Regions from separate parts of the Homo sapiens genome. Here region 2 is linked to region 1. The links come from fine-mapping of genetic effects on gene expression. A gene starts in region 1. The other region holds a variant in brackets. All regions are shown on one strand. Distances are between the middles of the regions. Region 1 holds the start of PNCK (pregnancy up-regulated nonubiquitous CaM kinase). Region 2 overlaps HCFC1 (host cell factor C1).

Region 1 (14,916 bases):
TCTGAGGCTGGGTAATTTATAAAGAAAAGTGGCTTATTTTGGCTCATGGTTCTGGAGACTATACAGGAAGTGTGGTGCCAGCATCTGCTTCTAGTGACACCCTCAGGAAGCTTCCATTCATGGTGGAAGGTGAAGAGGGAGCCGGCATATCCATGGCAAGAATGGGAGCAAGAGAGTGAGGGTGGAGGAGGTGCTAGACTCTTTCAAACAACCAGATCTCGTATGGACTCAGAGCAAGAACTCACTCATTATTGTGAGGACGGCACCACGCCATTCATGAGGGATCCACCGCCATGACCCAAAAACGTACCATTAGACGCCACCTTGAACATTGGGGATTATAGTTCAACATGAGATTTGGAGGGGACAGACATCCAAACCGTATCACATCACCACCACCCAACCAACACACATACATTTCAAAGTTGACACGTACAGGATTTCAGCAGATGTTTACACAGTTGCAAAGGGTGTAATTTCTTTTCTCTTTTCTTTTTGAGTTGTGCTATCACTCTCTGGTTGCCAGGGTGGAGTGCAGTGGCATGATCATGGCTCACTGCAGCCTCCAACTCCTGGACTCAAGTGATCCTGCTGCCTCAGCCTCCCAAGTAACTGAGACTATGGGTACACACCACCACACCCGGCTAATTTGTAAATTTTTTGAAGAAGATGGGGTCTTGGCAAGGTGCGGTGGCTCATGCCTGTAATCCCAGCACTTTGGGAGGCCGAGGCAGGTGGATCACCTGAGGTCAGGAGTTCGAGACCAGCCTGGCCAACATGGTGAAACCCTGCCTCTACTAAAAATACAAAAATTAGCTGGGCATGGTGACGGGTGCCTGTAATCCCAGCTACTCGGGAGGCTGAGGCAGGAGAATCGCTTGAACTCAGGAGGCAGAGGTTGCAGTGAGCTGAGATTGCACCACTGCACTCCAGCCTGGGCAACAGAATAAGACTGTGTCTCAAAAAAAAAAAAAAAAAAAAAAAGAAAAGAAAAGAAAAGAAAAATCCCAACTCAATAAGAAAACAACCCAATTTAAAAATGGGCAAAAGATCTGAACAGATGCCTCTCCAAAGAAGAAATACAAATGGCAAATAAGCATATCAGAAGATGTTTAACAGCATACATCTTTAGGGAATTGCAAATTAAAACCACAAGGAGATACCGCTGCATACCTACTAGATAGCCAAAATCCAAAACACTGACAACTCCTAATGCTGGCGAGGACCTGGAGCAGCAAGAACTCCCACTCATTGCTGGTGAGAATGTGACGAGGTACAGCCACCCTGAAAAGCGGTTGGCAGTTCCTTCCGAAGCTAAGTATACTCTTACCATACAATTCAGCAATCACACTCCTTGGTATTTACCCAAATGATTTGAAAACTTATGTCCACACAAAAACCACCCCACATATATTTATAGCAGCCTTTTTTTCCTTAAAGACCAGTGCGATAGTATTAGCAGCTTTATTCGTAATTGGCAAAAACTGGAAGCAATTAAGATGTTCCTCAGTAGGTGAACAAATAAAATGTGGTATATCTGGACAATGGAATACTAGTCAGTGATAAAGAGGGGAAAGCTATGAACCCATGCAAAGAAATAAGTTAATCTTAAATACATATTGCATAGTAAAAAGCCTGACAAAGCTACCTACTCTATGACTCCATTTACCTGACATTCCGGAAAAAGCAAAATAGATTAAAAAAAAAAAAAAAAAGACAGAAAACGGATCCATGGTTGCCAGGGGTCTGAGAGAGGGGATCGTGCTTGGTAGGCGCAGCACAGGGATTCTGTAGCACAGGGAAACTGTTCTGTATGATGCTGTAATGGTGGACACGTGACACTCTGAATATGTCAAAACCCATAGAACTTTACAGCAGACAGAGGGAACTTAAAATAGGCATCTGTCAGACTAAGAGCAAAAGGAAGAACACATAAGCGCCGCACTCTAATTGATAAGATCACCCCCCACCAGGGTAGAGGTGAATGATTCTGCAACCTCTCCACCTTTATACCGGAATTCAAGAACTACGGCAATGGATGGAAGACGGTGGGAGCCAGGTTTCTCACTTTAATTTTAATTTTTAATTTTATTTTTAGAGACAGGATCTTGCTGTGTGGCCCAGGCTGGAGTGCAGTGGCACAATCATGGCTCACTGTAGCCTTGACCTCCTAGGCTCAAGAGATCCTCCTAACTCAGCCTCCCGAGTAGGTGGGACCACAGGCATGCACCACCATGCCTGGCTAATTTTTCATATTTCTGGTAGATTTGGGGTTTCACCATGTTGGCCACGCTTGTCTTGAACTCCAGATCTCAGATGATCCATCTGCCTCAGCCTCCCAAAGTGCTGGGGTTACAGGCATGAGCCACCGTGCCTGGCCTGGGTTTCTCACTTTTAGAGTGGGAGGTTATAGACAAGCAAGGGCAGGCAGCTAGAATGACCCAGGTGGTGATGGATTAGAGTTGGAGACATCAGTGTGCACTCCTGTTGAGTTTAATATAGATACTGATGCGCGTGTGTATCTGTTTATAGATGTTATGTTAGTAACATAACATGGGTTGGTATATATATTAAATGGGTATTATATGGGCTTGTATATCTATCTATCTATATGTACATGGGTTAGTGTATATATATACACTATATATACTACATATCTATCTATATGTACATGGGTTAGTGTATATATACACACTATATACAGACTATATATACACTATATACACTATATATATACATACACACTATATATACACACACTATATACACACTATATATATACACACTATATATACACACTATATATACACACTATATATACACTATATATATGCACTATATATATACACACACTATATATACACTATATATACACACTATATATATATACACACTATATATATACACTATATATATACACACTATATATATACACTATATATATACACACTATATATATATATACACTATATATACACACTATATATACACACTATATATATATACACACTATGTATATATATGTATATACACACACACACTATAAGTTCTTGCTGTCAGTGGAGAGGGCCTAGAAGCAGCAATACTCCAGGAACAATGGGCACACCTAGCGCCCAGATCTTCGTCTCCAACACCATTCTCTCAAAAATGGCTCCTTAGAGAAAACGGCTGCTTCTAGGACCGGTTCAGGAAATATAAGGGATGAGCACAGAGCCAGAAAGTAAGGAAGGGCTCACAGAGACAGACACGCCCACACCTACACGGGCATGCACACACACATGCAGTGATGAACGGACATCAAAAGGACACAGGTGGCTGGGCGCGGTGGCTCACGCCTGTAATCCCAGCACTTTGGGAGGCCGAGGAGGGTGGATCATCTGAGGTCAGGAGTTCGAGATCAGCCTGCCAACATGGTGAAACTGTCTCTACCCAAAAATACAAAAATTAGCCCAGCGTGGTGGCGGGTGCCTGTAGTCCCAGCTACTTGGGAGGCTGAAGTGGGAGAATCGCTTGAGCCCAGGAGGCGGAGGTCGTAGTGAGCGGAGATCACACAATTGCCTGCCAGCCTGGGTGACAAGACTGAGACTCCATGTTAGAAATGTTTGTTCCCCGGTGGCACAAAGAAATAGCACTTGAACATAAATTTAATTTTCTTTTTCTTTCTTTCTTTCTTTTTTTTTTTTTTTGAGATGAAGTCTCACTCTTGTGCCCCAGGCTGGGGTGCAATGGCACGATCTTGGCTCACTGCAACCTCCACCTCCCAGGTTCAAGCTATTCTCCTGCCTCAGACTCCCAAGTAGTTGGGATTACAGGCGTGAGCCACCATGCCCGGCTAATTTTTACATTTTTAGTAGAGACGGGGTTTCACCATGTTGGCCAGGCTGGTGTCGAACTCCTGACCTCAGGTGATTTGCCCACCTTGGCCTCCCAAACTGCTAGGATTACAGGCATGAGCCACCACACCCGGCATAAGTTTAATCTCCTTAGCAAGGCCATTTTTTAACTTTCTGCGGAAAGGGTACACTCGCCAGCAGTTTTGCCACATGAGTACACCAAACAAAGGAGGGAAGCAATTTTTATTCCTTATGCCGTTTGTCCTTGCTACTGTGTCCTGTTTCCATTGGCTGCAGCCAGACCTCACAATCTAACCTAAAACCCGATTGGCTAGTAGTTTAAAACTTTTGAAAATAGATAAAAGTAATGGAAGGATAAAGGAAAAGAGGAAGTTGCTTACGAAACGGCTTAGAAAAGTAATAATATTCCCCAATAGGAAAGGGAGATAGGCTGCGAGCTGGGACATGCCTGTGAGCACGTCCAGCACAGATATCTTGGTTAAAGTACAAGGACATAGAATGTACTACGTGCCTGTAAGCATGTTTAACAGCTACATAGGATAGGGCTTAACAAAGAGTTATTAGCACAAAGCAAGGAGGCTTGAAGGAAGTTAGTCTTTAAAAGAAACTATTATTTCTAAACTTATGATTTATTTTTTAATAAGAAGGGAAACTTTGAAGAGGAACTTTTTACTTTCTACACTCCATCTCAAAAAAAAAAAAAAAAAAAGAAAAGAAAAAAAAGAAAAGAAAAGCTATGTTGCCCAGGCTAGGCTGGAACTCCTGGGCTCAAGTGATCCTCCAGCCTCAGCCTCCTGAAGTGCTGGGATTACAGGCATAAGCCACCTTGCCAGGCCGGAGGGTGTAATTTCTCTTGTAAACACACAATATAGGCCTGGTGCGGTGGCTCACGCCTGTAATCCCAGCACTTTGGGATGCTGAGGCAGGCAGATCACCTGAGGTCAGGAGTTCGAGACCAGCCTGGCCAACATGGTAAAACCCTGCCTCTACTAAAAATACAAAAATTAGCTTGGTGTGGTGGCATGCACCTGTAGTCCCAGCTACTCGAGGCTGAGGCGGGAGAATTGCTTGAACCCAGGAGGCAGAGGCTGCAGTGAGCTGAGATGGCACTACTGCACTCCAGCCTGGGCGACAGTGAGACCCTGTCTCAAACAACAACAACAATAACAAACCAAAAAAAACCCCATGATACAATGATTCAAACAAAAACTGTGCCATCAGCTTTTACATGAGGCCAGGGCCACCTGAGTCACCTCGTGGACCAATACCTGCCCGCTGGCTCGTCTTTCCCAGGCCCACTTTGGAGGTGGGTGCTTTCCTTCTGGCCTCCAGTTTCCATCTGCTGCCCCTCAGATAGGTCTCTTTGTGCCATCTCTTTCCACGCGGGCAGTTTTTTATTACTTTTCTGGGGCACAGAAATATGTGTATTTCTATTTCTTTTTATAACCCAGGACCATGTTGTAGAACTCTGCTTGGGCAAAGCACCATTGGCGTATTAGACATTCTGGGGAACTATCTGTAGGTATCTGTAAACAAATTGCACTTCCTGCTGTCATGAGAAGGGGCTCACCATCAGTTCCATTCCTATTTTTTTCTGTTTTAGATGTCGGTCCCAGGAAACCATTTTCACATAGAGGAGCAGGTGGGACTGGAGTTTCTGAGTGCTGGGGTCCCTGGAGCCTTCTGCAGTGTCCTGGGAGGGGTGACTGGGAAAGGCCAGGGGGCAAGAGCTGCTAGGGGCCTTCTCAGATTTCCCAGTTTTTACACAGAGTATATATGGGAGTTGAGGTCTGGAAAAATGATTTTTTAAAAACTCTTCCTGCCCCGTGGACTCTCTTGAAGACGTCGTGTCATGCCAGGGCCCACGGTCACTTGACGGAACCCTTGTGATGCTGGCCACAACCTCATGGGACTGGATGGCGAGCAGCGAGGGGGGTCCAGTAACTGTTGGATGCAGGATTGAATTCGGTCACCCGCACTTATTTCCTGGGCTCGTCTTGGTTGGGTTCGCGGAGATACACTCTCTGGGAGCGGACGCTTTGGTGAGGAAGACCAGGCGAAGAAGGTGATTTTTGCGGTTGGACGTTCTAAAGACAGGGCAGGGTTATGCGGAGAGAATTGGCAGGGGCAGGGCGGGGGAGGCCGGTTTGAGGAGGGGACATTTGAGCCGAGATCTGATGGAACGAGGAGCCAAGCCAGGCAGATATCTGATCGAAGAACATTCCAGGCAGGGGAGCAAAGGCTAGGGCCGTCAGGAGGCCAGTGTGGCCGGGGAAGAGGTGGAGGAGGAGGGGCCAGGGCAGTCGTTAGGCCGCCCCCTAAGGACTCATGCTTTGACTTGGATTGACATAGAGAGCTGCAGGAGGGTGACATGATCTCAATAAAAGGAATGCTCTGGCTGCTGGGTAGAGAAGAAAGCGAGGGTGAGGGATTAATGGTGGAGCCAGAGGGAGCCCAGTGAGTGCCGGGAGCCCAGGGTGGCAGAGCTGTGGTGCAGGGTTGCAGGGTCCTGGAGCTAGGCATGGAGGCTGCTTTCGGGCAAGTGGCCGGGTCAGCCTGTCCTCGGAGAGGCGGTGAAGGCAGAGACTGGAAGGCAGAGAGCCTTGCCGACCTGTGGCCGAAGAGCTCTCCGGGAGACAGCCACCGGTGGTGCAAAGGCCCTGGGGCCGGCCCAGCCGGGCCGCAGCTCCGGGAGGCGGCGCGAGCGAGCAGTGGGCTGGGCGGTGGCGGCCGGCACCCGAGCCGGATCCCGGCGATTGCCTTACAAGGTGCCCTGCGGCGCCGCGGCCGCGCTGGGCCACTGCGTGCTTGGGCGGCTGGCGGGGGCGTGCGCGGAGGGGGCGGGGCCGGCGGGGCGCGGGCGGGGGGCTTGGCGCTGCGGCCACTGCGCGGCACGACGCTGCGGCACCCGCTCCAGGTCTGCACCTGCTCCGGGGCGCGGGGACGCGCGGGGCGGGGGCGCACCGGATCCGGCCCGCGGCCGCCGCAGCCTTGCGCGTCCGCAGCACACCTGTCACGCCTGGCGCGCCCCCTGCCCGCACGCGCTCGGTCCACGCAGCTCGGGACGCGGGCGGCCCAGGCTGCCAGGTCCCCCTGCTCCGCGGCGCCGAGGGCTGGGCTGCGTCTGCGGCCGCGTGGGTGGCCGCGGTCTTGGCAGGTGGCTGCGCGCGGGGGTCGCAGGTGCATCCCGGGCGGCTTGGTGGCTTGGGCAGCGGGTGCCTGTGGGCGCTGTGCCATGGGTGGCGGGTCTAGGCGGGGGTGGGGGCTTGGGCGCTGTAGATGTGTGGATGGGGGAGGGACGGCGTGGGTGAGCATGGAGCCTTCTGGAAAGCGGCCGGATGTGTGGAGGCAGAGAGGCAGCATCCAGGCGCTGGTCGCCTTCGGGGTGCGGGGGAGGGTGCGTGGGATAGCAGCTGTAGGCCTGGGATGTGGAGGCGTGTATGCGGTGGCCTCGCTGGGAGGCGTCCGTCTGGGGGTGTGGACCTGGACGGGGGAGGGGAGGGTCGAGCGCGCAGCGGCAATGGCTGAGGCCTGCCTGGCAGGGGGTGGAGGAGGAAGCTGCCCTTGCCCCCGGCGGGGCGGGGAGAGACCCCCATCACCTCTCCCCTGCCCCTGCAGACATGCTGCTGCTGAAGAAACACACGGAGGACATCAGCAGCGTCTACGAGATCCGCGAGAGGCTCGGCTCGTGAGTGTGCGCGCGCGTGTGTGATCGTGTGTGTGTGTGTGTGTGTGTGTGTGTACCTGTGTGAGATGGCATGTGTGTGTGACTACGCGAGTGGGTGTGAGATGATGTGTGTGTGTGTGAATATGTAGGGGTGTGTGAATGTGAGTGAGTCTGTGAGATGGCATGTGTGAGTGGTGGTGGGGGGTGGCACAGGGCCAGGTAGGGCCTCCCCATCTCCTTCACAGGGGGCCCTCCCCGCTCCACTCTCTCTCCCTCCTGCCTCTCCTCTCTTCCCACTTCCTTCCCACCTCCCACCGCCCCGTCTGCGGCAGGGGTGCCTTCTCCGAGGTGGTGCTGGCCCAGGAGCGGGGCTCCGCACACCTCGTGGCCCTCAAGTGCATCCCCAAGAAGGCCCTCCGGGGCAAGGAGGCCCTGGTGGAGAACGAGATCGCAGTGCTCCGTAGGTGCGCACCTCGCGGGGCCCTGGGACGGGGCATAGGTCGATGGGGGGGTGCAAGCAGTCCTTGGCTCTAGTCCAGGCCTGGCCACCAACCTTTGGGAGGCCTGGGGCAGTGCTCTCTCTGGGCCTGCACATCCCTGTGGCAAAGGGAGTGAGTTGATATTGATCTGTGCTTTTCAAATGGGCTTTAGAAGGAAGGCCGGGGCTCAGGCTGGAGCTCTGCCTTCCTGGACCGGGCAGGGGTGGCATGTGGTAGGGAATGGGGAGCAGAGGTGGGAGGAAGAGAAGAGGGAGGAGGCTTTCCCCAGGGCCTCAGGACAGAGCACCCCTTGACTCTGTTGGCCCACAGGCGCTTCCTTGCCATTGCAGGATCAGTCACCCCAACATCGTCGCTCTGGAGGATGTCCACGAGAGCCCTTCCCACCTCTACCTGGCCATGGAACTGTGAGGAGGGCCTGGGCAGGCTGTGGGAGCCGGGGAGGGACTGAGCAGTGAGTGGGGCTGAAGGCCAGGCTGAGTGCCTGGGTCAGCCAAACCCCTGGCACCCCCAGGGTGACGGGTGGCGAGCTGTTTGACCGCATCATGGAGCGCGGCTCCTACACAGAGAAGGATGCCAGCCATCTGGTGGGTCAGGTCCTTGGCGCCGTCTCCTACCTGCACAGCCTGGGGATCGTGCACCGGGACCTCAAGGTGCCTGGCTGGGGCCTCTGCACCCCACCCTCCCACCTGCCCACCTGGCCCTGCCTTTGTTTTCCCGGGAGCACGGCTGGGGCCTTTCTTGATCTCCTGCTCCACCAAGGCTCTGGGGAACCTGAGAGTGCCTAGTCCCCATCCTGTCCCAGCACCGGCACCGCGTCAGGACTGACTGGCCCTTTTCCCGGTGTCCGTGTGTCACAGCCCGAAAACCTCCTGTATGCCACGCCCTTTGAGGACTCGAAGATCATGGTCTCTGACTTTGGACTCTCCAAAATCCAGGCTGGGAACATGCTAGGCACCGCCTGTGGGACCCCTGGATATGTGGGTGAGGGACGACACCCTGAGGCTTGCTGGGAGTGGGGTGGCCTGGGGGACCCTAGACAGCCGGGAAGGCTGTTGTGCCCGTTGCCTTTGTGTGGGCCATTCCTGGGCTTGAGTAGGCCGAGCCAGTGACACTGAGCGGCATGGCTGCGTGTGTGCCTGTGCGTGCGTCTGTCTGTCTCTGGCCCCCAGCCCCAGAGCTCTTGGAGCAGAAACCCTACGGGAAGGCCGTAGATGTGTGGGCCCTGGGCGTCATCTCCTACATCCTGTGAGTGACCGCTGGGAAGGCTTGTCTCCTGCCTGCCTGCCCCTGCTGGGTTGGGGAGGGTGGGACAGCTGGATGATTCATCTGTGGGTGCCAGGCTGTGTGGGTACCCCCCCTTCTACGACGAGAGCGACCCTGAGCTCTTCAGCCAGATCCTGAGGGCCAGCTATGAGTTTGACTCTCCTTTCTGGGATGACATCTCAGAATCAGGTGAGCTTGAGGCTGGCCCGTGCTTGGAGGTGATGCAAGGGAGTGGGGACCTGACAGGCTGACCCAGCCTCCCTGTTCCAGCCAAAGACTTCATCCGGCACCTTCTGGAGCGAGACCCCCAGAAGAGGTTCACCTGCCAACAGGCCTTGCGGCACCTTTGGTGAGTGGGAGCCCTGCTGAGCTGCCCCAGGGCCAGGGGGCCTGCATTTGCAGAGAGACCCCCCCTGACCTTCAGCCTTTCCCCAGGATCTCTGGGGACACAGCCTTCGACAGGGACATCTTAGGCTCTGTCAGTGAGCAGATCCGGAAGAACTTTGCTCGGACACACTGGAAGGTCAGTGTGGAGAGAGACCCAGTGTGGTCGCCCGCCGCACCCCAGCTGTAGCCTGATCGCCGTGGCTGCCCAGTGACCACTGCAGTCCTCACAGTCTAGGGGCTGGGGCCTGGGCCCAGGCCTGGCCTGATCTCCCTCTCTTCTGGCAGCGAGCCTTCAATGCCACCTCGTTCCTGCGCCACATCCGGAAGCTGGGGCAGATCCCAGAGGGCGAGGGGGCCTCTGAGCAGGGCATGGCCCGCCACAGCCACTCAGGCCTCCGTGCTGGCCAGCCCCCCAAGTGGTGATGCCCAGGTGTGTTTGGGTGGACCCTGCACGCCCAGGAGCTGGCTCCTTGGAGAGCTTAGAGGGTGGTGGCGCTCCATGTGGCCAAGAGCTAAGTGGGGTGGCCCCCACAGGCCAGAGGACTGAAGGCAGAGAGCAGAGGGAGGAGCCAGGGCCCCAGGAGAGGTGGAAGGACAGGGAGGGCCAGTGGGTGCTTGACATTGGGCAAGGGGGTGCAGGGGGAGAGGGCCTCTAAGAAGTCCGGGATTTGACCGAGGCGGGGGGTGGGGGCACAGGGCTGGCAGGCCGGCTCCTGACTACCCCCTTTCCCTCTGCTTCTCCCTCTCAGGCAGATGCCGAGGCCAAGTGGACTGACCCCCAGATTTCCTTCCCTTGGATGCTTTCGGTCCCCTCCCCCAACCCCTCCCCCTGGGGCTGGCCTCTGCTGGATTTTGAGATTTGAGGGTGTGGCGCATGGCGCTGGGGTTGGAATGGGGCACCCCCAAGTCTGTCCCCAGGCTCTGCCCTGCCTGGGGGCAGTGGCTCCCCTCCCCTGTTGCCTCTCCCGCCCCTGCCCCCCCCGCCCCGCCAAAAGCCGAGGGGGTGCTGGCAGGCGGGCCTCAGGGGCTGTCTTTCCTGCACGGCTGTTGTGTGCTTCGCTGAGTGTGGGTGGTCCTGCTTGTGTCATGGTCATGGCCTTCCAGCCCCCTCCAGTTTTCCCCAAACCAATAAAGAAAGATACAGCAATGGGCCAGTGGTGACCTGGGGGTGCGGCGAGTGTGGAGGGGACCTGGTCACTTGTGGGAAGGAAACCAATGAGAGCCTGCCACACGGCTTCGCCCACTGCCACCTGAACCTCTGCTTCCCCAGACAAGTTTCCAACTGTCCAAAAACTTCCTGTCCCCTCCCCCCAAAGCACCAACAAGTGGCAGCGTGGCCGGGCAGCTCTGCCACCCCAGAGGTGTAACTGCCCAGCCTTGGGGTCCTGGGACAAAGTGGAGGCAGCGCACGCCTGCTGGGCTGCCAGCAGGGGGCGCAGTCAGGAGGCTGAGTGCTGGCTCCAGACCCCCAGGGATGTGCTCCAGTGCCCCTGCCATGCAGGGCCGGGCCTGGGGTGCCTCAGCCAGGTGCCTGGGACTGGGAAGGGCTCACAGGTGCATGGAGGGCGACCAGAGCCCAGGACTGTCACCTTCCATCCCTCCCTCCCTTCCCTTTCTTGATGGCCAGAGGCCATCTTGTCGAGCAGAAGAGTAGGGGACCCCAGGGTCAGGGGGTGAGAGGAGCTCCTTGTCCAGGAGAGGGCGACACAGGGCCCTCTTCCCCTCTGCTGTGCGGGGGCTTTGGAACCCTCAGGCTCCAGGCTGGGGTAGACCTGGGCTGGCAGCTGGGGCTCTGGGAGCAGTGGCAGCTTGGCGGTGGCTTCTGAAGTGGAGAGCCGTGGCCTGTCCTCTGGTCTGAGTGGCCCCAGCCCCACCAACCTCCATTTTGGAGGGGCCAGGGCTCCAGAGCCCTGCCTTGCTGGGTCCCAAAGCTCTGCTGGCCCCTCTAGGCCTTTCTCTTGGGCCCATCAGGGGAAGACCCCTAGAGCCACTTCTTGGCCCCAGCGAGAGTTCCAGGCAAGCTGGCCACCCCTCCCTCCACTCTGAGACCCTTGCTCCCTGCCAGCCCTCAGAGTGTAAGCCTGATGACCCATGGCTTGACTGGCGAGAATGGTAGAGAAGATCACTCTCCTTGTTGAACTTTGGGCCCCAAAGGGAGGCGGTGAGGCTCAAACCAAGGCTGGCCTGGGTCTTGTGGGTGAAGGCTGGAGTGGGGTTCAGGGTTGGAGCCAGGGGACCTGGCTTCCACCAGGGAGAGCAGGCTGGAGGTGGGTGGGCAGCCTCCTCCTCCATCCCCACAGCCGCTCCCAGGCCATCCTTCGCTCCAGGCTTTGGGCCCCACAGGGGACCTCAGTCAGCCAGTACCACGGCTTCCTCGCCTCCAAGACCTGTCCCACCTGCCCTCACCCCTACGTGGGGCCTTGTTGCCTGTGGGCACCCCTGCTGTGGGCCCCCCTTCCCATCTTCTCTGTTGTTCACACTGGACTCCCACGATACCTACTTGCTGTTGTTTTGGTCAGATGTTGACTGAGCCTCTACTCTGGGCCAGGTGCTGGGCACTGACCTGGGCCTATCAGAAGAGGCGCCTGCCCTCCAGGAGGACGCCCTCTATTGGAGGGGTGGTTTTACGGGGATGATAAAAATGATCTTTGTGGGTCTGGGAGCAATGAGCAGGAGTGCCAGAGCCAGCCTTACAGAAGAAACCGGCACTCGCTCAGAACAGCCAGCTCTTCCAGTCCAGGCACGTGGCCAGATCGCTTCGGCTTGGAGCTTAAGCCAGCTCTGGGCTGCCTTGACACAGGGTGCAATATGGCCTCCCGTCAGCAGGGGGAGCCACGGCCCCATCTTTAGACGTCCATTAGCCTCCCTAGTTCCTTCAGCACCCTGGGCAGCCTCTCAAATCCATTCCTCTCCGCGACTGCCCCTACCCCACACCCTGCAAATCCTGCCTTGGGGAAGTCCAACCTTGGGGGAGAGGTCCTGCCCATCTGTGATAGGGGCGAGAGGGGGAACCCCCAGGTCAAGCAGAGGCGGCACCCCTCCTTCATCCCTCCGAGACCGCATATGAGGAAGGCAGTTTGGGTCACCTAGGCAGTGGGATGGCAGCCTGGGAGAGAGAAAGGACTGGTTTAGCCAAAGGCAAAAGGTGGTGTGTGTGTGTGAAGTGATGGCAAGGGAGCTGTGCTGGACACTGTGAGGGCTTCTCAGGCTCAGGGCTGGTGCTGAGGCTGGCAGCAAGAGGAACGGGCCAGACCAAGCCTGGCAGGGGAAGGAGCTGGAGCTGTAGTCTAGGAGCAGTGGGGAGCCATCGAAGGGGTTTGTAGCCAGAGAGCATCCTTGCCCAGTGTGGGTTAGGTGCTGAGCCGGGGCCGGCTGCTAGGAATTGGGGTGTCTGGAACCAGACCAGAATTGAGGGTCAGGGGAACCCTGGTGGGCATCACAAAAGGAAGCTGTCTCTGCTGTTCTGGGCCACACAGGGTGGGTCACGTGCTCTATCTTGAAGCAAACCTGTGGGTAGCGGAGTTTCAAGGGAAGCTCAACCTGTGGGTCCACCCTAGGGACAGGGAGACACGGAGGTGGTCCTAGGAGCTCTTTGGGAGTCATGTGGACAGGTCTTGGTGATGGGTTGCAGGTGGGGAATGAAGCGGGGGGATCCAGGTAGATCATGTTTCTGGCAGCAGAACATTCATCAAGAAGAGTTCAACGGGCATTACTTTGGGGGAGGAGTAATGAGATTGATTCTGGATGTGGTGAGTTCGAGGTGCCTGACGGGCATGAAAGTAGACTTACTTTTCACCCTTCTCTTTGCAAATATGTATCTAGCATTGTATCTGGTATTTCTGGAAGGCTTATTCCTTTTAATAAAAAGAACACTGATCCCTCGAGCCCAGGAGTTCGAGACTAGCCTGGGTAAGATGGCGAGAACCCACCTTTACAAAAAAAAAAAAAAAAAAAAAGCATGCTAGTAACGACTCTTTATTGAAGAGCTTTCCATGTATTAACTTGAACCTCACCTGTGAGATAGCTGCTATCATGATCATCATCCCCACTTCACATATGGAGAAACTGAGGCATACAGAGGCTAAGTGAGCCAAAGCCATACAGCTTGTGGCACAGTGAGGATTTGAACCCACACTCTGCCACTGCATCCTCTTGCTTGCATCCATGCAAGCGAGGTCTTGCTTGGGACATGATTGTGTGGGGAATTGAAGAAAACAAGGCGGCATTCTTTCCCCACTTCTCTTTGTGAATGCAAACTCTGTGTGTCTGAAGGAAAGAGAACCCTGGGCTGGGGGAACCCACGCTGGATTTGAGTTGGGGTCTTGCAGATGGTTTGTGTTGCCATTTTTTTTTTTTTTTTTACGAGATGAGGTCTCACTGTGTTGCCCAGGCTGGAGTGCAGTGGCTATTCACTTCACAAGTGTGATCCTACTACTGATCAGCACACGAGTTTTGACCTACTCCGTTTCCGACCTGGGCTGTTTCACCCCTCCGCAGGCAACCTAGTGGTCCTCTGCTCCCAGAATATTGATGCTGAACTTAGTACGGACACCTGATGGACATAGCACACTACAGCCCAGAACTCCTGGGCTCAAGTCATCCCCAACCTCCCGAGTAGCTAGGACTACAGGTGTGAGCCACCATGCCACCTGGCTTGTGTTGCCTTTAAGCTCCTCTGTGCCTCAATTTTATGTCCTGTTAAGTGGGAACCAGGGAGGTCTTTGCACAGTGGTGGAAATGGGGCATGGGAGCTGGGCCCTACAAAGATCCCTTTGGAGTTCGGTGTGAGCGATGGCCTGGAAGTGGGGCAGGGCAGGGCTGGTGGCTGGGAGACAAGCCTGAACCATGTGGAGAACAAGGCAAGAGATGTGGGACTACTGGAAAGATGGAGCTTGGTCATCGACTCAATGGGGGTGGTGGGGGGGTTGTGAGGGAGTTGAGGATGCTGCCAGGGAACCCGGGAGAGCAACAGGTCTGTTGAAGAGACGAAGTGACCAAGTCGGGCCCCCTGGCCAGGCGGTGGCTGAGTTGGCACTATAAGCCACATGTTTCTTCCTGCCAGGCACTGTCTGGGCATGTGGCAACCATGTTCTCCACCCCACCCCAGCTTCATCCACGGATCCCTATCACTAGCCCCAACACCAGGTGGGCAAGATAAGAAGTATGGAATGTTTCAGAAATAACAAAGAATCCCGTCTGGTTGAGGGAGGTTGTGAGAGGAGGTGGGTAGAGATCAGCCTGGAAA
Region 2 (8,456 bases), 280 kb before region 1:
TTTAACATGGGCTGGAGCTGGCCCATCAAGAATGAAAACTTAGGCCCACAAGGAAAGGTGAGGGCTGGCTTGCTTCTCAGCCCTGCTGCCTGGCTCTGGCCCCTCTCCTCCCCTCTGACAGGGGCTTCTCTCCCTTTCTAGAAGATCTCATCAATGACTGAGACTGCCCCAAGGGCTCTGACTACTGAAGTCCCCATCCCGGCCAAAATAACAGTGACCATAGCCAACACAGAAACTTCTGACATGCCCTTCTCTGCTGTTGACATCCTGCAGCCCCCAGAGGAACTCCAGGTGTCGCCAGGTCCTCGCCAGCAGCTGCCGCCACGGCAGCTTCTGCAGTCGGCTTCCACAGCCCTGATGGGGGAGTCCGCCGAGGTCCTGTCAGCCTCCCAGACCCCTGAGCTCCCGGCCGCCGTGGATCTGAGCAGCACAGGGGAGCCATCTTCGGGCCAGGAGTCTGCCGGCTCTGCGGTGGTGGCCACTGTGGTGGTCCAGCCACCCCCACCCACACAGTCCGAAGTAGACCAGTTATCACTTCCCCAAGAGCTAATGGCCGAGGCCCAAGCTGGCACCACCACCCTCATGGTAACGGGGCTCACCCCCGAGGAGCTGGCAGTGACGGCTGCTGCAGAAGCAGCTGCCCAGGCCGCAGCCACGGAGGAAGCCCAGGCCCTGGCCATCCAGGCGGTGCTCCAGGCCGCGCAGCAGGCCGTCATGGGTGAGTGCCGGTGCAACCCTGGGGAAGCCGGGCCGCTCGGGGGAGCAATAGGCCGCGGAGACAGCCTGGGAAGAGGAGCCCATTTCCCTCGAGGGTGGCATGAGCCAGATGTGATGGGGAGGACGAGCACAGGGGACCCCAGGCAGGCCAAGTAGTAGAGACTGCCGTGTAGAACAGGCTGGCTGGGGTTAGCGCCTGGGAAACAGGCAGGGCCCCTCGGCCAGGGCTTAGCCTACAGTGGAGCACGGTAGGAGGTGGACGGGGTCTCTAGGACAGGCTTTGGGGGCCTCCGCCCGGGCTGCCCGCTTCTGGCCAGCCTTCCTAGTAAGTAGTGTTTCTCTCGACCCTGGAGCAGGCACCGGCGAGCCCATGGACACCTCCGAGGCAGCAGCAACCGTGACTCAGGCGGAGCTGGGGCACCTGTCGGCCGAGGGTCAGGAGGGCCAGGCCACCACCATACCCATTGTGCTGACACAGCAGGAGCTGGCTGCCCTGGTGCAGCAGCAGCAGCTGCAGGAGGCCCAGGCCCAGCAGCAGCATCACCACCTCCCCACTGAGGCCCTGGCCCCTGCCGACAGTCTCAACGACCCAGCCATTGAGAGCAATTGCCTCAATGAGCTGGCCGGCACGGTCCCCAGCACTGTGGCGCTGCTGCCCTCAACGGCCACTGAGAGTAAGCGACTGAGGGCGAATTGGTGCTGGGGTGGTGGGGGCACCCAGGGAGGTGAGGGCAGGACGGGAGGCTCGGTCTCACTTGGGAGCCAGGTTTCCCGAGTCTTTCCCGCTGACACCTTCTTTCTTCCTAGGCCTGGCTCCATCCAACACATTTGTGGCCCCCCAGCCGGTTGTGGTGGCCAGCCCAGCCAAGCTGCAGGCTGCAGCTACCCTGACCGAAGTGGCCAATGGCATCGAGTCCCTGGGTGTGGTGAGTCGGGTGTGTTGGGGCTCCTGAGTCCGTGGCCTGGGGGGCAGCACTGCCTCTAGGTGCTGAGGGCCTGATCTCGTCGCACCGATTCTGTCTTGCAGAAGCCAGACCTGCCGCCCCCACCCAGCAAAGCCCCCATGAAGAAGGAAAACCAGTGGTTTGATGTGGGAGTCATTAAGGGCACCAATGTAATGGTGACACACTATTTCCTGCCACCAGATGATGCTGTCCCATCAGACGTAAGTGTCCCCAGGTGCTGATGTCCTCAGGTGGGTGGGTCTTGGCTCCACCACCCTGAGCGGGGCTTACAGGAAACTCCTCCATCTTTGGGCCAAGCTGAGTAGCCAGGAAGCCTGAGGAAGGTGGGCAGAGACCATCCCCCCTGAAGCAGTAGAAAAGGAGAGCTTTGGTTCCTTCCCGCCAGTACCGGGCCACAGTCAGCCTCGCCACGTCCCTCCTTGCCGTGAGGGGCCAGCCACCGCTGACCTCTTTTCCCTCTGGCCCATAGTTACCATGGACCTGCAGTGTTCCTGGGGTGGCCCAGAGCTGCCTTCTCCACAGTGGCGTTCATGCCACTCCTCTTTTCCTAGGATGATTTGGGCACCGTCCCTGACTATAACCAGCTGAAGAAGCAGGAGCTGCAGCCAGGCACAGCCTATAAGTTTCGTGTTGCCGGAATCAATGCCTGTGGCCGGGGGCCCTTCAGCGAAATCTCAGCCTTTAAGACGTGCCTGCCTGGTTTCCCAGGGGCCCCTTGTGCCATTAAAATCAGCAAAGTGAGTCTTGCTGTGGGGTGGCCGTCTGTCCCTGGTTGGTTTCTGCCTGCCTCAGCACATGAGGTGGCCGGGGGGGGGCATAGGAGAGCTAGGTTTTGAGTCCCAGTTTGTCTTAGTCCTTCCACTTGGGGGAAGATCTCTTTGAAGCTCCTTGAACTACCACATGGAATATCTCTACTGTGTTAGAAAATGGCTTATGGGAACCATGATTAGTCAGTTCTGGAAGCCTCTAGCCTGTTCTGTTGACCTTCTGACCCCCTGGCTTCTAGAGTCCGGATGGTGCTCACCTCACCTGGGAGCCACCCTCTGTGACCTCCGGCAAGATTATCGAGTACTCCGTGTACCTGGCCATCCAGAGCTCACAGGCTGGGGGCGAGCTCAAGAGCTCCACCCCGGCCCAGCTGGCCTTCATGCGGGTGTACTGCGGGCCCAGCCCCTCCTGCCTGGTGCAGTCCTCCAGCCTTTCCAACGCCCACATCGACTACACCACCAAGCCCGCCATCATCTTCCGCATCGCCGCCCGCAATGAGAAGGGCTATGGCCCGGCCACACAAGTGAGGTGGCTGCAGGGTGAGTGTCCTTCGTGGAGCTCTTCAGGCACAGGGAAGGCCCAGGAAGCCGGGTGCAGCAGGAGGAACTGTCACCATCTGAGATTTTTTCCCATGTGCGGCGTCTCCCTGCTTCCTTTGGCGCGCACACAGCCCCCCACGGGGGTGGCCATCAAGTAGAGCAGGGGACCCAGCTCCGGGCCTGGGGGTGCAGGGGACGCCACCCCAGGATGTTTGAGGGGACAAGCAGTGAGAGGGCTGGCGGGAAAGTGTAGGTTTCCAGGCCCGAAAACAGCACGTCCCAGGTCCCTGGAGTGCAGCAGGTGAGGGATGGAGGCCAGCCTGCCTCCTGTCAGGTCATGCTCCTGCTCCAGCTCCCCTGGGGCTCTGGGACCTGGGAGGGCAGTGAGAGGTGGGAGCTGAGCTGAGTGGGTTTCTAACCTACGTCCAGAGGGGAGTGAGTGGTGTCGTGTTCTGGTCCCAAGGAGTGGCGTAAAAGGTGACCACCCATAGGGCAGGCGCCCCACCCTTGCCAGCTGCGGGTCATGCCATGTGGCACCAAGAGACTCTGCAGGCGGGCAGGGCGCATGTGTTCCTTGCTCTCGTTCTGTCACAATGCTGCTCACGCATCTCTCCCGTTCCTTCCAGAAACCAGTAAAGACAGCTCTGGCACCAAGCCAGCCAACAAGCGGCCCATGTCCTCTCCAGAAATGTAAGCAGGAAGCCCCTCTCGGGAACCTTCTGAGACTAGGGGTGGAAATAGCTGGGTTCAGCCTCTTGTCAAATGACTGGGGGCCCCTAACCGGCCCTGCACCAGCAGGGCCTCCAGTGGTGCAGGGCCCACACTAACTTTCTCTTTCCTTTTTCTGCCTTCCAAGGAAATCTGCTCCAAAGAAATCTAAGGCCGATGGTCAGTGAGAGGAAGCTGACTAGCCCCTGGATTCTTCTCCAGACCCCCCTGCTTCAGGAACACCCGCCAGGGCCCACCCCTCCCACCCCGTCCCAGCATTCGCACTTCACCCTCGCGAGCCGCTGTTCACTCCTCTCCCCTTTCTCTTTCTCTCTGTTTTTAAAATAATCTAAAGAAAGCACATTTTACCATTGCTGTTGGGAGGAAGCAGAGGCAGATGGGAAAGCAGAGAGAGGAGCGCGCTTCCTTTCCTCCCCGCTGCCGCCCACCCTGGGGAGAGACTTTTGCGGGGAGGGAAGG[C/T]GGAGCTGAGGACAGCCAGCTCCGCCCTCCCAAGGCTGTGCGTTCCTGAGGGCCAGGTCGGGGGCAGGCATGGAGGGGAGGAAAGGCGTCCCTCTTGGCCCTCCCCAGAGTGGCTTTCCTGGCACCCTGGCCTGGGTGTCTGGTTCTGTTTTCTTTTCTTCCCCTTGTGTTTCCAGTCACCTAACTTCCCTTCCTCAGGCTCCCCCGGCCCACCCTGCTCAGTGACCCCACAGGAAGCTTACACATTTTCTCAGAGGCCTTTGTGCTCCCACCTCTTCTACCCTCCCCCTCTTCTTTCCCATTTTAAAAAAGAAAAGAAGGAAAAAGAAAAAAGGGGCAAGGAGCCCCGCGGCGGCCTGGGCAGCGCCTGTGCAGACCTCCCTGCAGGCCGCACTGCCAACTGCTGCATTTGTTGTGTTTTTTAGGTTGCAATTGGTGAAGTTCACACTTTCATTGTAATTTTAGCGTGTGGGGTTTTGTCCCTTTTTTGTTGTTGTTAGCTGTGTACAGAATGTGTAATCTTTTTTCTTTTCTCTTTTTTTTGTTTTGTTTTGTTTTGTTTTTGTTTTTTTACTTTTTTCTTCTTGGCTAATTCTTGGCAGGGATCTTTCTGGAGGAAAAGCTGGGGCCAGCCAGGGCAGGAGAGGTGTGAAATCTGCCACGAGGGGCCTGCTGTTTGCCACCCAGCCCAACTTCCTGTTGCTGGCCCCTGCCCTCTGCCCTTTTGCCTGTCCTCAGGCCGCTGGAACAAAGGAAGGACAGCTCATTCCTCATGGGCGATCACTCCGCATCTATAGGGTCGAGCCTAGGGGAGCTTGAGGGAGGGCTGGGGCCTCCTTGTCCTGGATTTCCAGCTCTCCCCATGCCCCCTCCCTGAGCACCACCGGCACCGCCTCCCAAACAGGGCTGCTGGTTTCCGCAGCCACTGCTCCACCTCCCCCAAATCGTCATGGAAAGGGTGGAGAATGGAGGGGAACCAGGCGTCCTTGGAGGCAGCTTGGGAGGGTGACTGTGTAGTGTCACCCACAAGGGAGGCTAGGGCAATGGAGCAGGCCACCAGCAGCAGCTGTGCAGCATGGAACTCAGGCCAGGCTCCGAGGCTGGGGGATCTGCTTGGAGTTTTCTGCCCCCCACCCCAAACTTCTGTCGAGGAGCAAGGCTTGCCAGCAAGTCAGAAGGATTTGAACCGAGCAGCCAATCTTTCCAGCCCTCCCCTACCGACCTCTGCCTGGAGACGCAGCAGCCTGTGTCCTCCAGGGCCTCTGGTTTGTTGTATTATAGTATATTTCGCTGTGGAAAATGTCACGTTTAGTCACCTTGGAGCCCACTCACCTGGTCCTGTTGTTTTACCCCATCCCTTCTCTCGCGCGCCTATTGATTTGTTTCTGAGGAGAGTACACCGTTCACTATTGTAGAGTAACCCCTGTGACTCAATATTACCATAGTGCGATGTCGTTTTGTGCTATTTTGAACAATTAAAAGACTTTTTTTGAAATAACCACTAGGTGTCTCACTGTGTCCCGGCATCCTCTCAGGAAGCCTGAGCGGGAAGGCTGAGACCTGCCCGAGGCTCACGGGAGCCCCCTGGAGGGAGACCTGAGCTCTGGTGAAAGCGTAGAAGGCCCCAGAGTGAGGCCTCTGCTGTGGCCTCCGGTCTTTGGACCAAGTCGGACCAGGGTCCAGCAGGTTGCTTGGTAGCTGCCTTGCAGGGCAAGGGCCAAAGAGCCCCTTGGGCAGCTGCTGCTGACTTCCTGTGTCTGGGGCCCAGATCTCCCTCCCTCCCCTCCTGCACTAGAGGATAGGATGGGGCAAGGGCCTGGCAGGTCACCAGCGGCAGCCTCCTTGGGTGGGTTGGGGGGAGGTGGGCTGAGTCAAGTACACCACGGGTACTGCAGAGGTGGATCCCTTCCTCTGGCTTCCTCTTAAATGTGAGCCATGCCCCCAAGGGGAAGAAGCAAGAGCTTGTGATCCAGACTGACCACCTAGCAGCTGGGTCGGTAGGACAGCTGGGATCCCGTGGGCTGAATTTGTACCAGGAGGCCCAGAAAGCTCCGGGGCAAGGTGGCCGGAGCAGCACAGGCCTAGGCGGGTCTGAGGGGAGTGACACCCTGCTTCTGGGGCCTGGTGCTCCTGGCGCACCTGCATTCCCCGCCCCCTCCAAGCCCCTGCCGCCTGCCTTTGTTTCCCCTACACACCTCTACTGCCCAGCCTTCCTCTCAGAGCACCCAGGCACTCCGCTACCAGAAGCTCCTGGAGTAACCAAAGCCTCCGTGTCTCCACCTGTGGCATGGGTGTGTGTGCAAGGCCCTGTCGAATGCGACCTCTTCTGGGAAGCCTCTGTCCTGTGGGGTCTGCTGTGTCATGTGGGGGTGGGGGGAAGCAGACTGGCCAGGGCTTGACACCAGGAGCCATGGCTCTGTCTTACCCACCGCACCAACTGTGACCTGCCTTGGAGCCTAGCCTCGCAGAGGCCCAAGGAGAGGGGTGGGAAAGTGTCCTTCAGAGCAGAGCGGTAGGAGTCATGGCTGGGGCTGGTGGAGGCCAGGGGCCACATGGGGCTGGCCCCAGAACCGAGGGGCCTTGCGGATTTGCCATACCTTTGGCAAATGGCGTTGTGGGCGCTTCGCCTGGTGGGGGTGGTACAAGGCTTCTTCCTACCCCACTTCTGTAGCTGGCACCTGTGGGGCTACCCACCCTCCGCATTCCTTCAGCTCACTTGTCTCACCGCGGCTGCATCACACTCCACAAGGCAAGGGCCACATCAGTCATGCCTCTGGTGTTTATCTGAAAATACCGCGTTTCCGTCTGAGGGCACCACTCAGTCTGGGGAGGCAGGAGGGAGGCTGGACATGAATGTGAACATGACAGGCCTGTGAGCAGGGCAGGTAGATACAGCCCGGCTGGGCACAAAGCTCATCCCCTGAGCATGAGCCGAGGCCGAGGGTGGGTGGGAGCACACAGAGGATGCCTCCCCAGCTGCCAGGGCATCAGCCTCATTACCAAGCACCCCAAAGGGGAACTGTTTGGGGTTGGGTGGGTCAGCCTGCAGCAGGGACTGAGACAGCCACTGTGGCATCAAAGACCAGCAGTGCAGTACCCACGCCCAGAGGCTGGAACCCATTTTGTGCACTGTTGGCCTGGAAGGTAGGAACCACCTCAGCCCAGCTGCCTTGTAGCATCATCGGGTCAGTCATAGAGCTACAGACAGATCTGGGCAGCTGGAAAACAGGCCCAGAGAAGGGGGGTGTGGGCTGTTACCTGCAGTTACTGTCTGGCCTTAGAGCTGTGTCACTTGTGTAAAGAAGTCAGTGCCAAGGCCGAGCGCGGTGGCTCACACCTGTAATACCAACACTTTGGGAGGCCGAGGCAGGTGGATCACGAGGTCAAGAATTTGAGACCAGCCTGGCCAACATGGTGAAAAACCGTCTACTAAAAAAAAAAAAAAAAAAAAAAAAAAAATTAGCTAGGCATGGTGGCAGGCACCTGTAATCCCAGCTACTCCAGAGGCCGAGGCAGGAGAATTGCTTAAACCCGGGAAGCGGAGGTTATAGTGAGCCAAGATCATGCCACTGCACTCCAGCCTGGGCGACAGAGCAAGACCCCATCTTGGGAAAAAAAAAAAAAAAATTAGCGCCAATGGCTGCCCATTACTGACTGTTGAGGTAGTTGGTGACAAACTGATTCAAAAGAGAGGACTTGCTAGGCTGGGTGCGGTGGCTCACGCCTGTAATCCCAGCACTTTGGGAGGCTGACGCAGGAGGATCGCTTGAGCTTAGGAGTTCGAGACCAGCCTGGGCAACATTGCAAAACCCTGTCTCCACTAAAAATACAAAAATTAGCCAGGCATGGTGGCCCACACCTGTGGTCCCACCTACTCAGGAGGCTGAGGTGGGAGGATCGCTTGAGCCTGGCAGGTCAAGGCTGCAGTGAGCTGCCTGGGCGACAGGACACTGTCTCAAAAAACAAAGAAACAAACAACAACAACAACAACAAAAACAGAACTTGCCTCCTGTCTACCCTGTGTGGTGACAGGTCAGAGGGACCTCTGCATTCAGGCCCACTAGCTGTTCCCTGTCCTGCTGCACCCCTGCCCCACAGGCTTGGTAGGGCCAAGGCCCTCAGCCGCCCTGCCGGGGCCCCTGGTGTAGGGCGGGGTGGGTGGCAGCCCCGTTCCCCCTCATCCCAGACCCTCCGGCCATCCCAGCTTTTCCCACCAAGCAGGATCTTGAGACCAGAGCTCCCAGCAGGGGCCCTGGAGGGACTGGCCCATTCGAGTGGA

Evidence for each region. PIP is the estimated chance that this variant, and not a neighbour inherited with it, causes the effect.
Region 2: its variant is fine-mapped to the expression of PNCK in tibial nerve (GTEx, PIP 0.97).

What each region holds. Positions count from the first base shown.
Region 1 is chrX:153,665,635-153,680,550 of GRCh38, reverse strand. It overlaps PNCK (pregnancy up-regulated nonubiquitous CaM kinase), which reads left to right and starts at 6,738. Exons shown (of 12, transcript NM_001366977.1): 1 at 6,738-6,771; 2 at 7,473-7,542; 3 at 7,854-7,985; 4 at 8,351-8,425; 5 at 8,533-8,671; 6 at 8,879-9,002; 7 at 9,191-9,266; 8 at 9,361-9,473; 9 at 9,555-9,633; 10 at 9,720-9,807; 11 at 9,957-10,101; 12 at 10,421-10,818. The coding sequence starts at 7,475. The coding sequence ends at 10,094. It also overlaps the pseudogene RN7SL687P. RefSeq lists silencers at 9,529-9,784, 11,013-11,062 and enhancers at 12,272-12,771, 12,772-13,273.
Region 2 is chrX:153,944,776-153,953,231 of GRCh38, reverse strand. It overlaps HCFC1 (host cell factor C1), which reads left to right. Exons shown (of 26, transcript NM_005334.3): 19 at 274-718; 20 at 1,074-1,391; 21 at 1,525-1,643; 22 at 1,745-1,882; 23 at 2,234-2,419; 24 at 2,689-2,989; 25 at 3,616-3,679; 26 at 3,846-5,675. The coding sequence ends at 3,885. Among named protein-coding and RNA genes, the nearest start is that of RENBP, 4.4 kb to the right of the region's middle. RefSeq lists enhancers at 4,968-5,507, 7,674-8,437 and a silencer at 8,347-8,406. The variant C/T (reference allele first, on the strand shown) is at 4,178.